Linked DNA regions of Homo sapiens: region 1 is linked to region 2. Evidence: fine-mapped expression QTL. A gene starts in region 2. The other region holds a variant in brackets. All regions are shown on one strand. Distances are between the middles of the regions. Region 1 holds the start of TMEM35B (transmembrane protein 35B). Region 2 holds the start of ZMYM6 (zinc finger MYM-type containing 6).

Evidence for each region.
Region 1: its variant is fine-mapped to the expression of ZMYM6 in whole blood (TOPMed, PIP above 0.99).

The regions. Positions count from the first base shown.
Region 1 is chr1:34,982,992-34,991,328 of GRCh38, forward strand. TMEM35B (transmembrane protein 35B) reads right to left here and starts at 2,356. Exons shown (of 3, transcript NM_001195156.2): 1 at 2,207-2,356; 2 at 776-956. The coding sequence starts at 2,314. ZMYM6 (zinc finger MYM-type containing 6) reads right to left here. Exons shown (of 16, transcript NM_007167.4): 16 at 3,174-5,944. The coding sequence ends at 4,113. RefSeq lists silencers at 1,915-1,984, 2,045-2,334. The variant A/C (reference allele first, on the strand shown) is at 5,059.
Region 2 is chr1:35,027,549-35,035,885 of GRCh38, forward strand. ZMYM6 (zinc finger MYM-type containing 6) reads right to left here and starts at 4,397. Exons shown (of 16, transcript NM_007167.4): 1 at 4,267-4,397; 2 at 2,999-3,165. The coding sequence starts at 3,091. It overlaps LOC124903990 (a long non-coding RNA gene), which reads left to right and starts at 5,172. Exons shown (of 2, transcript XR_007065739.1): 1 at 5,172-5,609. RefSeq lists enhancers at 3,699-4,225, 4,226-4,750, 4,407-4,586 and a silencer at 4,117-4,236.

The DNA of each region.
Region 1 (8,337 bases), 45 kb before region 2:
TCAGCAGTTCCTGTGGGCAGAGCTACTTGAGGGGGACTCCCTAGGGAAATTCTCTGCCTTCCTGTTCAAGGTTCTCCAGCTTCCCTGCTCTCTACACCAATCTGCCAGACACATGCATCAAATGGCAGCTGCTCCTCCATCCCCTCATCCTAGGAGTGGATGTGTGGAGGAAGGAGCAGAGGCGCTGAGCTTGCAATATATCTTCACAAGGCAATACTATGCAGCCATTAGAATTGAGGAGGTAGAAGGTACACTTAACATGTGATAATGTTCTAGCACATTAAGTTTAAAAAGTACCTGTGCTAGGCCGGGCATAGTGGCTCAAGCCTGTAATCCTAGCACTTTGGGAGGCCAAGGCGGGCAGATCACGAGTTCAGGAGATCGAGACCATCCTGGCTAACATGGTGAAACCCTGTCTCTACTAAAAATACAAAAAAATCAGTCGGGCGCTGTGGCAGGCGCCTGTAGTCCCAGCTACTCGGGAGGCTGAGGCAGGAGAATGGTGTGAACCCAGGAGGCGGAGGTTGCAGTGAGCAGAGATAGTGCCACTGCAGTCCAGCCTGGGCGAAAGAGCGAGACTCCATCTCAAAAAAAAAAAAAAAAAAAAAAAAAAATACCTGTGCTAGTTTGAAGACCATGGAAACTGTGGTAGAGCAGAAAGTGCTCTTGATCCCAGAGAAAAAAGAAGGGTGGCAACAGTAAGGGGGAACAGCCAGGTCTTTCCATAATCCTCCCCCAGAAGACCCCATTTTCTCAGGCCAGTTGGCCCCCTTACCCATCATGAGCAGAATCAAGAACAAGTTACTGATCTCTTGCAGCATCGGTGGGCCCATGACCAGCAGCAACCCAGCCAGCAGTTCCAGAAAGCCCACAGCTATTTGGTAGTTCAGGGGATCTGGCTGGTAGCCAAATACCTTCAGCGGGAACACCTCAGCAAACTGCACGAACAGGGCATTCTAGGGGTGGCAAGGAATGCCTGTTAGCCTCATTGTTCAACAAGGATGAGCTCCCCAGATGCTCCATGGCATATCTATGCCTGTGCCCTCAACTTCCCAGAGAAAAGAACTACTACTCTAGGTCAGGTCCAGGGCTGAGGTCAGCCTGAAGAGGAGAGGGCTGCCCTGTGGCGCTGAGCTTTGGAATCAGGAAACAGGCTCCATGCTCCAAGTGGTACAGAGATTGATCTTCTCACTAGACCTCTCAAGAGATTACAACCCAGCCCCAAATCCCAGGAGGAGGGGGCTGGGCTTGGCTCCCTAGTGCCAAGGCCTGGGGAATTCCACAGTTTCCTTCTTTGTGTCTGGCCTGGTTTCTCTTAAGGCTGCTGTACAGGGAATATTTGGAGGTGAGGCAGAGTTAGGTGGGCTCAAAGTGACTCTTCTTGTCAAGGCAGGCCCTCCCCTGAGCCAAATGACAACTTCATCCTTACTTTCGGGGATACTTTTTCCTGTTCCCACTCCTCAGCTCTACCTCCCCTCCTCAGCTCTGCTGGGAAGCAGCTCTAAGCTGTCTGTCTCTGGGGATTTATCCAGGCCTTGGAGAGAGATGCCAGCAGAGGTCTACAAGTCTGGCTCTTTTGAGGGACTGGGGAGATTGGTGAACAGGATATGAAAGCTTTCCCATGAGTCTGGAACTAGACAGAAGGCTGAAAGACGACTTCAGGGCATCCCTCTCAGGCTTCCGAGAGAGGCTTCCCTCTCTGGGTTCCGAGTTAGGAGTGTCTAGCTTGTGTCCTGCTTCCTGACTAGATGTGCAATCTTTAGCAGATATACTTGCCCTTCAGGGCGGGCTTCCTTCCCTGCAAAGCCAGGATTACTACACCCCAACCCCACGAACCTCCCAAAAACTGAAGCAAACGGCGAAAAGAGGGAAGAGAGCGGGAAGTGAGCTCATTTTCCCACCGCATCATCCTCCCCCAGGGTCCGGGGGGGTGGGAGGGACCTCCTAAGGCTCTAGATTTGCCTGGGGCCACCAATATTCTGCAGGAAGGGGAGGTTCTGTCCCCTTCCGTCTAGGGAAGATCCAGAGAACTCGAGGAACTCCCCAGGCAGGACCTGCGCCTCAGTCGAAAGCCAGGCGCTTTCCCCCAGCTCCAGCTGAGCCTCGGAAGCCCGAAGGCGGCCTGCCGGGCCGGGGGCGAGGAGCGGCAGGGCGGAGCACACGCCGCCGCGGGCCCGATCCCCTGCCGCCCGCCCGCGCCGCTCACCATCCGCTCCGAAACTGGAGCCGAGATCTCCTCCGAGAGCTTGGCCAACCCCACGAGCGCGAAGAAGCCGCCCAGCAGTACACGCAGCACCGAAAGCAGGAGCGCCATGGCCGCGCTCCCCCCACCGTGGGTTGGCCCCGCCGAAAACCCGCCCCTGCCGCCGGCTCATTTCCTCCCTCCCCGGGGCAGCCGGAAGACTCTCGCCTGAGCTACCGTCCCCCACCCTCCAGGGGGTCGCGAGGCTGCAGTACTGGGGCAGGGCGCCCCCATCTTACAGGTGGGGACACTTGAGGACCACTGGCTGGTAACTGACTAAACAGGCACCTTTGGATTCAGGGAGTGTTTCCCAGCCAATACGGAGTGCTGGCAGACACGGGTGGGTGTCTGGGTGCGGTTCAGCTACCATCAAAAGACCCCGGGCTTCGTTCCTGCCTGTGCCACACTAGCTGTGGGATCTGAGCTGTCACCCACCCCAAAGGGCCTCAGTATCTGCATCTGTATATGGGGATAACTCAGTTCTCCAGAGTTTGTAACAGGCCTAGCACAGTGCCTGCACATGTAAGAGCTCAGAAAGTTATTTGTAAATTAGTAAATTAATTTATAAAATTGTAATAAATCAATAACCATTAATTATTAAATAAGTCTCTTTGCCTGAGATATCTTTTCCCTCTAATTTATCTCGGCTGACAATGAAATGTGAAAGGTGTTTGAAAATTCAGATACTTGCATGGATAGAGAGGCTTTCACTGAACCAAGCCCTACAGTCCACTCCTGGCCCATTTGCTCTTACCTGGAAATCTGTCTAAAGCTGGGATGGGCAAACCATGGGCCAAATTTGGCCAGATGTCTGATTTTTTTCCATGCTTCTCCCCTTCCCCCAAGCTAATAATGTTTGTTTACATTTTTTATGATAAAAACATTTTTTAAAGAAGCTTGTGTGACATAGGAAAATTATATGAAATTCATATTTCAGTGTTCATGAATAAGTTTTATTTAAAAACAGCCACACTTATCTGCATATTGTCTATGGCTGCTTTTGCACTGCAACTGCAGAATTGAGTAGTTGTGACAGTATGGCCTGCAAAGCTGAAAATATTTACTATCTGGCTCTTTATTTAAAAAGTTTGCTAAGCCCTGGTATATTGGGCCAGAAAGGCCCCAAGCAGGGGTCTCAAATCCCCCTGCTGCTTCCATTTATAGTTACCCAAGCTGCTTAGATCTATCTTTTTCCAGCTGGGCACGTTGGCTCACACTTGTAATCCCAGCACTTTGGGAGGCCGAGGCAGGTGGATCACTTGAGGTCAGGAGATAGAGACCAGCCTGACCAATATGGTGAAACCCCGTCTCTACTAAAAAAAATACAATAGACGGGCATGGTGGCACATGCCTGTAACCCCAGCTACTTGGAAGGCTGAGGCAGGAGAATTGTTTGAACCTAGGAGGCAGAGGTTCCAGTGAGCCAAGATCACGCCATTGCACTCCAGCCTGGGCAACAAGAGCAAAACTCCATCTCAAAAAAAAGATCTATCTTTTCCACCTACTCACAACCTTGCAGGGGTAAGTAGCTGGTTGGCTAGAAGACTGAAATGTTCCACTTGCTTCTAAAGGCCAAGCTGTTTCAACATCCAGGTTGTGCTGTTACATTATAAACTGGGCTTCTCATTACCTGCAGTCTTTGTCACTAGTCCAAATTTAATGAAATAACTAAATTTTCTACCCTAGATTATAATTATACATAATTATTTATAACAATCATAATTATTAAATTCCTCAACAAAAAGGGAAAAATTATTAAAACATTTAATCACTGAAAACACAAATCCACATTAGGAAATTATCTTTTAGGATACTTATACAAAACTTAACACAGGATTATTGACTTCACTGTTAAGCAATGTGCATATTGCTACTCTTTCTCCTTCACTAATTTTTCTATCCTTGGAATTAAAGATGTGACTGCAAGTCTTAGGGCAGGGCCAGAACCCAACAGATTTTTTTGTTTTGACTCAGTCAAAGCTGAAAAGGCAGCATCACATAAATAAACAGTTGAAAAGGGTAATAAAAATTTCATTGCCCTTTCATGGAGTTCTGGGTAACTTGTCTTTGCATTTATCCAAAACTGAGTTACAGACACTGATTTAAATAGTGCTTGTAATCCTAAATCTGAAGATAGCTCTGTTAGCTTTTCTTCTTCGAAGTCGGTGAGATTATTATTTTGGTGATTCATAAAAGGGTGAATTATCCACAAATTTCCTGAACGCAAGTCTTGTTCTGGTGGAAAACAGTCACTGAACACTTGAGAAAGTCCTTCCAGGTGCTCAAAAATAATCCTTGTGATGTCTGTCATATTTAAGCCTGATGAATTTGAGAATTCAGAAAATGAAGGGAACATGTCATAATCATTCTCTTGTGTGCGCTTCAACCACATTTTTAACTTTCTCTTAAATACATCAATTTTATTACACAAATTGAAGAAAGTAGTCAAAGTTCCTTGGAGACTTAAATTTAATTCATTTATAAGTGAAAATATATCTGATAAGTAGGCCAGCTTTCCAACCCATTCCTCATCATGAAAATACTTGGCCAAATCTGAATGCTTTTGACTTAAAAATATTTCAATCTCATGTCGTAATTCAAATAATCTTTTTAACATTCTCCCTCTTGATATCCAACGTACTTCAGCATGAAGCGGTAAACTCACATGCTCAGATCCCATCTCTTCACACAAAATTGTTAACATACGTGAATTTAATGCATTGCTCTTTATAAAACTTAAAATTTGTGCTGACTGCAAAAGAATTTTATGTAAACATGGAGACAACTTTTCTGCCACTAAACGTTCACGGTGAATA[A/C]AACAATGTGTAAATGCCGCTGTATTCATGGCAACTTCTTGAATTTTTGCTTTTAAACCAGAATACCTGCCAGTCATGCTTGCAGCCCCATCGGTACAGAGACCAACACAATGTTTCCAATTCAGAGATTTACTATCAATATATTTATTTATTAGTTCAAATATTTCAAAGCCAGTTATTTGAGTAGGCATTTCAATGCAAAATAATAATTCTTCTTTTACATCACGACAATCATAATCAATGAAACGAATATAGCACAAAAGAAGTGTGATATTTGAGATTTCTGATGACTCATCTATCTGAAGGGCAAACCACTTTGACTCTCTGACCTTTTGAATCAGCTGGTCTTCAATGTCTGCAGATAGTTCATCAATCCTGTGTTGAATTGTAACATTAGAAAGTGGAATAGTTTTCATTTTGTCTCCAGCACTTGAACCCAAAACTTCTGAACACATTTCTACTAAATATGGTTTAATTAATTCTTCAGCAATGGAGAATGGCTTCTTGCTTGCAGCAGTTTGGAAAGCAATTAAATAAGAAGCTTTCACAAGTGACTTTTCAACTAGTAAACACTTTTTTAAAGAACTATTTTGACATTCCATTTCTAAAGATTTTTGTTCAAAAAAATCTACTGGTTTGTTTTCTAATTCTGAATGTTTTGTCTTCAAATGATGAGAAAGATTTGCTGGCTTCATGTTTTCACTGGATAAGATCTCTCCACAAATGACACACTGTGGCCTTGGTGAACTTTCTTTTGATCCAGGACAGATAATAAAACCAACTTTTAAATATTCTGTATCATAAGTCTGGAAAAAACCTAATCTTTTTTTCTTTGAAGGTGGAGAATCAAGTTCTGCATCATTTTTTTCATTAGGCATAGGTAAATCTGAATGAAATATTTGAATCACTGTTATTTTCAAGAACAAATAAGCAATGTTCTTTATGTATCTCCCCACATATTTAAAATTCATATTTTGTTACTATTTCTATTTATCAAAAGAATGCACTGGTAAAAGTTTAAGCACAAGTCATAATACTTCCAATGATGCTACTGAAAACTGAATTTCTCCTTTGCCCAAAGCTTGATCACTAGGTATAATAAAACTGTAGGATGTGGTACATGTACAAGTAATCCCAAGCACCCAATAGGTTATTGAAATTAGGGCTGAAGACCATGATACACATCAAATTAACAATAAACTTTTTGGCTGAGCAGGGTGGCTCACACCTATAATCCCAGTGCTTTGGGACACCAAGGTGGGTGGGTCACTTGAGCCCTGGAGTTAGAGACCAGCCCGGGCAACATGGCGAAACTCCATCTCTACATTAAAAAAAAAAAAAGAAGAAGAAAAAAAATTGGCTGGATGCAATGGCACACACCTATAGTCCCAGCTACTTGGGTAGCTAAAGCAAGAGGATTGCCTGAGCCCAGGAGGTTGAGCCTGCAGAGAGCCATGATCACACCACTGCACTCTTGAGACTACGTCTCAAAAAAAAACAAAAAGAATAAATTTTTTATTGGTGAGTGACACTGGTGTCAAAAAATTTTTTTAAAGAAAAAGAAAAAAAAGGCCAGGCATGGGGCTCACACCTGTAATCCCAGCACTTTGGGAGGCCAAGGCGGGCAGATCACCTGAGGTCAGGAGTTCGAGACCAGCCAGGCCAACGTGGTGAAACCCCGTCTCTACTAAAAACACAAAATTAGCCAGGCATGGTGGTACATGCCTATAATCTCAGCTACTTGAGAGGCTGAGGCAGGAGAATCGCTTGAACCCGGGAGGCGGAGGTTGCAATGTGCCGAGATCATGTCATTGCACTCCGGCCTGGGAGACAAGAGTGAAACTCCATCTCAAAAAAAAGAAAGAAAAGGAAGAAAAAGAGACAGAAAAATAATGTTTTACTTTCAAACAATCCAGAAAAAAAAAGAAAATAAATATTGCAAAAAGTTAACATTTCATTAATCTGGATGAAGAGTATACTAGTATTGACTGTACTGTATATTCAACCTTTCTGAATTTTGATACTCAGTGTCAGTGAGGTTGTAGAGAAATGGATCCTCCTGAACACTGCTGGTTGGAGCATACATTGATGTAACTTTTCAGGAGGGCAATTTAGGCAACAGGTATCAAAATACTTAAGAATAGATGATAGGCCGGCGCGGTGGCTCACGCTTGTAATCCCAGCACTTTGGGAGGCTGAGGCGGGCACATCATGAGGTCACGAGTTTGAGACCAGCGTTGCCAACACTGTGAAATCCCGTCTCTACTAAAAATACAAAAGAAAATTAGCTGGGCATGGTGGCAGGTGCCTGTAATCCCAGCTACTCAGGAGGCTGAGGTAGGAGAATCGCTTGAACCTGGCAGGTGGAGGTTGCAGTGAGCCGAGATCGCGCCACTACACTCTAGCCTGGGTGACAGAGATAGACTCTGTCTCAAAAACAAAAACAAACAAAAAAAAAGATGATAGTCTTTGAATCAACACTTCCACTGATTAGGATTTATCCTAAGGACATAATTAGGCAAGTGGACAAAGATCCATTAACATAGCTTAACCCAACATTGCTTATAATACAAATATCTAAATTTCCAATCTTAACGGAGTTGGTTATATTATATACACTGAAATCTATGTTAAGAATCTCATACCCAGGTAACAAATCTGCACATGTACCCCCGAATAAAATAAAATAAACATAATAAAATAAAAATTGGAAAAAAATAATCTCAATGTATATTTAAATTTATATTGTTGTGGAATAATGTTTCCAATGCAATGTCAAATGAAAAAGTAATTTCGATTGTTAGAAAACATTCGAGATTTATTCTTTTAAAAGAGACGGAGTTTCACTCTTGTTGCCCAGGTTGGAGCACAATGGCGCGATCTCAGCTCACCGCAACCTCTACCTCCCAGGTTCAAGCGATTCTCCTTCCTCAGCCTCCTGAGTGGCTGGGATTACAGTCCTGTGCCACCATGCCCAGCTAATTTTGTATTTTTAGTAGAGATGGGGTTTCACCATGTTGGTCAGGCTGGTCTCAAACTCCTGACCTCAGGTGATCCGCCCATGTTGGCTTGCCAAAGTGCTGGGATTATAGGCATGAGCCACCACGTCTGACCAACAATTCAATATTTAATCTAGAACTCAAAACATAAGCACACACACACACACAAACATACACACACACATACACACATATAGATGCCCACAGATCCTTTAGTACTCTCCATGTGTGAACGTGTATATAATATAAATTCAGGTACAAATAATATATTGTTTTAATA
Region 2 (8,337 bases):
GACCAGCCTGGGCAACATAAGGAGACCCCGTCTCTACAAAAACTAGCTGGGTGTGGTGGAGCATGTTTGTGGTCAGCTACCTGGGAGGCTGAGATGGGAGGATCGTTTAGAGTGCAGTGGCCATACTCACACCACTGCACTCCAGTATGGGCAACAAAGTGAGACCCTGTCTCAAAAAAAGGAAACAAAAAAAAGAGAGAGAGAAATAATGAAATATAGAAGAACATCATGGGTCAGATACAAAAAATATTTAAAAGCTAAAAACCACAAAACCTGGCAAAGAAATGGTTACTTTAGGCAGAGAAAGAGTAAGAATTTACCATCTGGAGGGAAAACAAGTAGCATGGATGCCACCATCCCCCACTCCACATCTAACAGACACTACCTCAGAACTCTTCTTAGCCCAGCACTCTAGCAAGGCATAGAGTTCATGAGTGAAACAAAACCTACCTGACATCCCTGTCTTCTTATGATACTGCCTGTGGCTGGGCATGGTGGCTTACAACCATAATCCCAGCACTTTGAGAAGCCGAGGTGGGCAGAGCACTTGAGGTCAGGAGTTTTGAGACCAATCTGGCCAACATGGCGAAACCCAGTCTCTAACAAAAATATAAAAAATTAGCCAGGCGTGGTGGCGCACACCTGTAATCCCAGCTACTCAGGAGGCTGAGGCAGGAGAATCGCTTGAACCTGGGAGGCGGAGGTTGCAGTGAGCCAAGATCGCGCCACTGCACTCCAGCCTGGGAGTGACAGAGCAAGACTCCATCTCAAAAAAAAAAAAGGAATGATACTGCCTGTGAGATGGTGTGAAAAATAAAATTGTTTTTTATTATTTTAAAATATAATTGCTTTGCTGATACAATAAAGTCAATAACTTTGAGTGTAAAGCGAAAGAACTGTCCCAGAAGAAAAATTCCTTGCCAAAACAACTAACTCATCTCTCCCATTGATTTTATTTTATTTTTTTTTGAGACGGAGTCTCACTCTGTCACCCAGGCTAGAGTGCAGTGGCGCAATCTTGGCTCACTGCAAGCTCCGCCTCCTGGGTTCACGCCATTCTCCTGCCTCAGCCTCCCAAGTAGCTGGGACTACAGGCGCCCACCACCACGCCCAGCTAATTTTTTGTATTTTTTGTAGAGACGGGGTTTCACCGTGTTAGCCAGGATGGTCTCGATCTCCTGACCTCGTGATCTGCCTGCCTTGGCCTCCCAAAGTGCTAGGATTACAGACGTGAGCCACTGTGCCCAGCCTCCACATTGATTTCCGTGCTCTCCATTCTGGGTCCCTATGGGGTAGCCAGAATGATCTTTCCAAACACAAATCTGTTTCATCTTACTTTCTCACTTAAAACCCTACAATTGGCCAGGTGTGGTGGCTCACGCCTGTAATCCTAGCACTTTGGGAGGCTGAGGTGGGTGGATCACCTGAGGTCAGGAGTTTGAAACCAGCCTAGCCAACATGGTGAAACCCCGTCTCTACTAAAAATACAAAAAATTAGCCAGGCGTGGTGGCAGGCGCCTATAATCCCAGCTACTGGGGAGGCTGAGGCAGGAGAATCACTTGAACCCGGGATGTGAAAGTTGCAGTGAGCCACCAAGATTACAACATTGCAGCAAAACTCCATCTCAAAACAAAAACAAAAAACCCTATAATGGCTATCTACTGCTCTTAGGATAAAAACCAAAATTTATAACAAGGTCTGCTACGTCCTACATAATCCAGCCTTAAACTATATATACAGCCTTATCATAGAGAAGCAGAATAGCACAAGTTCTGGAGTCTGACCACCTGGATTTGAATCCAGTCTTTGTCATTTACTACTAACTGTGATCTGTGGTAAACTATTTGGCTTTTTTGAGCTTTGGTTTCCTCATCTGTAAAATGGGGATAATAATATGGTGGTAAGAATGGTGCCTGACACACTCTTAAGCATATATAAATATTAAGTTAATAATGTCACATATGATTATGATATAATATATACTACATACTGATATACTAATGCCAGCTATTTTTATTGTTGTTGTTTTAATCATTATCATCATCACCATTTTCATACCTTTTCTGTTCCAGGCTCACTGTTCCTGCAGGTCTTAAAAAGAACCATGCATCTTTCCAACTCAGGGCTTTCCTATTCACAGTTCCCTCTGTCTGTAATACTCTTCTCCATACCCTTTGCCTAATCAATTCATTCTTCATAATTCAGCTTACACATCCTTCCCTTAGAGAGGCCTTCCCTAGCCATCCCCAGGCAGACCACAACCAAAACTAGGTCAGATTCCCCATTTTAGGCTTTTCTTCCAGAGTACTTGTCATAGTTTGTAATTATATATATTACTTGACCAATACTTTTGTAATCTCTGCCTCCTCTACTAACATATAAGCTCTACAAGGGAAGGGACTAAGCTGACTTTGCTCAATCCTGGATCCCCAGAGACTAGCACAGACCACAAATTCTTAACAGAATAAAGGAAAGTACTACCAGATACAAGAGAATTTTTTTTAAGTGACAAGTATGGAAAAATGGTAAATATATTACTTTCCTTCCACACACAAAAAAATCATGTAGTTATAGCTTTCATTCAAAGAGCAAAAAACCAGCCAGGAATGGTGGCTCATGCCTGTAATCCCAGAACTTTGGGAGGCCAAGGTGGGTGGATTGCTTGAGCTCAGGAGTTTGAGACCAGCCTGGGAAACATGGCCAAACCCCGTCTCTACCAAAAATACAAAAAAATAGTTGAGCATGTTGGTGTGTGCCCTGTGGTCCCAGCTACACAGGAGGCTGAGGTGGGAAGATCACTTGAGCCTGGGAGGTGGAGGCTGCAGTGAGCTAAGGAGATCGCACCACTGCACTACACCCTCAGCGACAGCGAGAGCCTGTCTCAGTTTGGGTTATTTTAAACTTACAAACCAGAAGCCGTTTAACTAAAATTTTTCAGTTGACCAGATGGAAAAGAAGGAATTTTTTTAAATTTTTAAATGAAGATGAAATGCTTACTTGAGCATTGTCTGGTTCTTCTTTAATTTTGTCCAGAAGCTCCTGCTGTGGTACCACTGCTTTGCCACATTCACCATCCAAAGGTTCTTTCATTCTAATTTTTTACCTCAAAGAGTGTCTCAGGCTCAAACGAATAGATTTCTTCTTGGTAATGGATAGTTGGACACCTAAAATACATACTCAGGCTTATTCTTTTTTCTTCAGGCTTATCTATATGAAAGAAAAACTTTGTGTTGAGTGCATGAGGCTTCACGGCTCGGCATTTGAAAAACAACTCTTCTGGGGCCACAACTAACTTTTTTCTTTCTTCCTGCTTTCTGTTCCTTCAGTAGCTACATAAGAAAACAGTTTTGGGGCAACAGCTCCCACTTCTCTAATATCTTTAAAGACACACAACACACTCTGGTTTTTTCCTATGTTGAAGGTTATTGAAGGGAATTAGACCAGCAGACCAAGACGTGGGAGGAAGTAATAAACTCTGAGAAGAACGGACTCAAGAAATAGTTTCTGACCCCATAAGAATCAGTACTTAGAGGCCCACGTCGGCTTTTATTTCTCAAAGAGGGGCACAACAACCTCCCGGCCCTGACCTATAACTCAACCTTCACTGGAAGCCTCCCTAAGGGCCCCATTTCTCGGCCTAACGCTAGATGTGAGCTCAAGATGCCATCCATCGCAGGCGAACAACAGGAACGCCCTTACTGAAAGTGAGTCACCTGCCTCTTTCAAGGTCTCCGTGTGAGGGGTGGGGGGCATCAAGCCCCTCAGAGCCCCGCTTCACAATCGCCTTCCTGTAGAAAAGAAACTCAATTGGCCATTCAGTAAATTCCCTTCCCCTAAAAGTCAAAGAACTAAACGGGACGAATTAAACCTAAAACAAAAAGCTCTTCAAAGTTGTCTTTATCCGAATAGTCCGGGATGGAAACGGACAACTGGTTGAAAAGCCTGTTCCAAAGAAGAAATGAGAACTTTTGCGCACTCGCCACAAAATATCTACGGGCGCTCATCCCTCCTCTGAGAACCGCACGCTTTCCGAAATTCTCCTTCCCACCAAGAATTCCCACTCCCATCATTGAGGACTAACGAGGCAATGTGGTCTCCGACTGAGAGCGGTGGACTAGCCAGTGAATGTCAACGCGTCCCTAAGGCGATATCCGCAGCCGCCCCAGCCGCGTAGCCCACCTGGCACCGCCCCCGCCGCAACGCCTCGTCACGTGGTGTGGCCTCCGCCCCGCCGTCCCGCCCACTACCACTGCGGCCGCACCCACCTTCTGTCGCCTCCCTGCTACCGGAGGAGCACTGGAATAGGAACCAAGTCCTCTGCATCTAGACAGGGATTATTTTCTCTTCTGGAATTCCGCCTGATCCATCCCAACGCAACGACCGGCCAACCACGCCTGCGCAGCCTTGGTCTCCGCCCTCTTTTCCCGTCAGGCTCCGGACCTGAGCTGAGTAGAACTTCCCAGCATTCCTCTTTCCTCAATTATGGTTCACTTCTTAAAGAGACCGAGGCTCAATAGTGAAAAGGTGGAGATGGCGTTAGAAGGCGCTGTAAGTGCTCTATAGCATTCTTTTTTTTTTTTTTTTTTTTTTTTTTTTTTTTTTTTTTTTTTGGAGACAGAGTATCACTGTGTTGCCCAGGCTGGGGTGCAGTGGCACAATCTCGGCTAACTGCAACCTCCGCCTCCTGGGTTGAAGCGATTCTCCTGCCTCAGCCTCCCGAGTAGCTGGGCTTACAGGCACGTGCCACCACACCTAGCTAATCTGTAGCATCCTTTAGTGCCCATTTCCTGAAAGGTGGCCTACTGAGAGAGCATGATATTAAATAATACTTGGCTTGCTGAGCACTTCACATGCACCATCCCACTTAATCCTCACCATTTAACCCTAAGAGGTATAATTTTTTAATCTCTTGAGATATAAATGAAAAAACTTGCTCAAAATTGAGATTTGGTTTTTTTAATTCAACATTGTTTCACAGATACGTGTATGATTTGTGACTGTTCATTCATTTTGACTGCTGTATAGTATTCTATTTTATGAATATGATACAATTTTAATCATCTACTACTGATGGACATTTGAGTTGTTTCCAATTTGTGGCTATTAGGAATAATGCTTCTGTGAACATTCTTGTCATTGGTGATGTTAAAAGACAAAATTACAACAAATTTAATTTAAATATCTCAATTAGCTTTATTTGTGATTCTAGAATCTGGCAGCACTTCATTCCATAAAATAGAACAAGTGTTCCAATGAGCTGAGCAGAAGAGGTAGGTTTTATAGACAGAGAAGGGCTGGAGAAAGCAGAAGTAAAGAACAAAAAACAGATTGGTTCATTTCAAAGTAACTTTCCAAAAAATAAATAAATAAGTTAATTTCCTTGTAAAGCAGAACCAAGAAACAAAACAATAGAGAAATAACTGATTGGTTAACATCAGGTAACTTCAGTTTATCTTTTTTTGGTAACGATTAAAGCAGAAGAAATTTCATTATTATGCTAATTGAAACTGGCACTCAGGGGAAATTAGACTCTTATTATCTCTTTTTCCTGACTTTTCAGAACTTCAAATAACAACGTAGTTTCCATTTGATGACATGGAACCTCAGTGTGAGTGACTCCATTTTGATTTTTAGTCTGGTTCATTGAGACCTACTGCAGGAGCTTAGCCCGAAACAATGGCCTACAAGTTTTATTTAACAGTGATACATATGCACACATTTCTGTTGGGTTCATACCTAAAAGTGAAATTGCTTGTTATGTATATGTAAAATTTAGGTAGATAATCTCAGGCAATTTTAGAAAATGGTGGTTTCAGTTTATACTCCCTTCAGCCATGTATGAGAGTTTCAGTTTCCCAACATCCTTGCCAATAATTACTGCTGCATATCTTTTTAATTATAACCATTCTGATGGGGGCATAGTGGTATCTCACTGTGGTTTTAATTTGCATTTCCCAGATTATTAATGAGGATGAGCCCATTTTCTTGTTCCTTGGGTATCTGGATATCCCCCATAAGTGCCTGTTCAAGTCTCTTGCTCATTTTTGTATTGGATTGACATTTTCTTATGGGCATATATTTTAGATATGAATCCTGCTATGGTTTGAATGTATGTGTCCCTTCAAAATTCATATATTGGAACTTAAACATTAAGGCGATGGTATAAGAAGTGGAGCCTTTGGGAGGGGTTAGGCTATGAGGACTCCATCCTCATGAATGGGATTCATGCCCTTACAAAAGAGGGCATTCATGCCCTTCACAAAGATTCATTCCTTTTGCCCTTTTAACCCCTCACTGTATGATAACAATGTTCCTCCCAGCAAGAGGACAACAACAAAGTTTCATCTTGGAATTAGAGAGTAATTCCAAGACAACAAATCTGCCAGTGCCTTGATCTTGGACTTGCCAACCTCCAGAACTGTGAGAAATAAATTTCTACTATTTATAAATTACACAGTCTGTGGCATTTTCTTTTGGCAATCAGGAATACACTAAGATAAGTCTTTTTTGAATATACACTAGCCCCCCTCATCCACGGTTTTGCTTTCTGAAGTCGTAGTTACCCACACTCAACCACGGTCTGAAAATATTAAATGGAAAATTCCAGTAACAAATAATTCATAAGTTTTAAACAACTTTCATTAAAGTCTATTGTTATAATTGTTCTATTGTTAGTTGTTAGTCTCTTTCTGTGCCTGATTTATAAATTAAACTTTATCATAGGTATGTATGTATAGGAAAAAACATAGCATATATAGGGTTTGATACTACTGGAGGTTTCAGGCATCTGTGGAACATCTTCGAACATATCCTCATGGATAAGGGAGGGACTACTGTATATATTGCAAATATCTTCTCCCACTCGGTAGCTTGCCTTTTCACTCTGTTATTGGTGTCTTTTGATGAACTTAAAAGACCTTTGTGGCCGGGTACAGTGGCTCATGCCTATAATAGCAGCACTTTGGGAGGCTGAGGCGGGCGGAACTCTTGAGGCCAGGGGTTTGAGACCAGCCTGGCCAACATGAGGAAACCCTGTCTCTACTAAAAATACAAAAATTAGCTGGGCATGGTGGGCACCTGTAATCCTAGCTACTAGGGAGGCTGAGGCAGGGGAATCACTTGAACCCCAGAGGCAGGGGTTGCAGTGAGCCAAGATCGCACCACTGCACTGCAGCCTGGGTGGCAGAGCAAGACTCTGCCTCAGGAAAAAAAAAAAAAATTAGCCGGGTATGGTGGTGTGCACTTATAGTCCCAGCTGCTCGGGAGGCTGAAGCAGGAGAATCACGTGAACCAGGAAGCGAAGGTTGCAATGAGCTGAGGTCATGCCACTGCACTCCAGCCTGGGTGACAGAGCAAGACTCCATCCAAAAAACAAACAAACAACAACAACAAAAAAACCCTTTGTGCTTAGTGCTTATTGTATTCTCTTAAGAAATATTTTCCTACCAAATGAAGAAAATTTCTAGAAGTGTTATTAGTCTTTCACATTTAGTTTTATAATCCATCTGTGGTTGGGTTATGTGTATAGTGTAAGGTAAGTCAGATTTCAACCTTTCCATGTGAATTTTGCATGGATTAAGCACTATTTTTTAAAAAGACTGTCCTTTTCCCCACTGTTCTGCATTGACACCTTTGTCATGTATCAGTTGTCTATATATGTGTGGGTTTATTTCAGGACTATGAAGGCTGTTCCTTTTGTTTCTCCTTGTGGAAATACCATACTGTCTTAATTTCTGTAATAGCTTTATAATAAATCTTAGTATATGATAGAAAAAGTCCTCCCTCCTATTATGTCCTTCAAGATTATCTTGGCTTTCCTTGGTCCTTTGCATCTTCATGTAAATTTTTGAATCAGCTTGTCAGTTGTGACAAAACTTTCCTTACAAATTTTAGAATCCATTGGGATTTTGTTTAGTATTATACTGAAGTGGTATGCCTGTTTTGGAGAATTGGTATTTGTTATTCATTATGTTGAATTGTGTCACCTAAAAAGATATGTTGAAGTCCTAACCCTTAGAATGGGACCTTATTTAGTCATATAGGATTGTTGCAGATGTAATTAGTTAAGATGAGGCCACACTGAAGGAAGGTGGGCGCTTCATCCATTATGACTGGTGTCCTTAAGAGAGGAGAAGATATGAAGACATACACATTGGAGGAGAACCCCATGCGATGATGGAAACAGAGATTGAAGTACTGCAGTTGCAAGCCAAGGAATGCTAAGGATTGTTGATAACACCAAAAGCTAAGAGAGGCAAGGAAAGATTCTCCCATATAGGTTTCAGAGAAAGCATGACCCTACCGATCTTTAATTTTAGACTTCTAGCCCCAAGAAT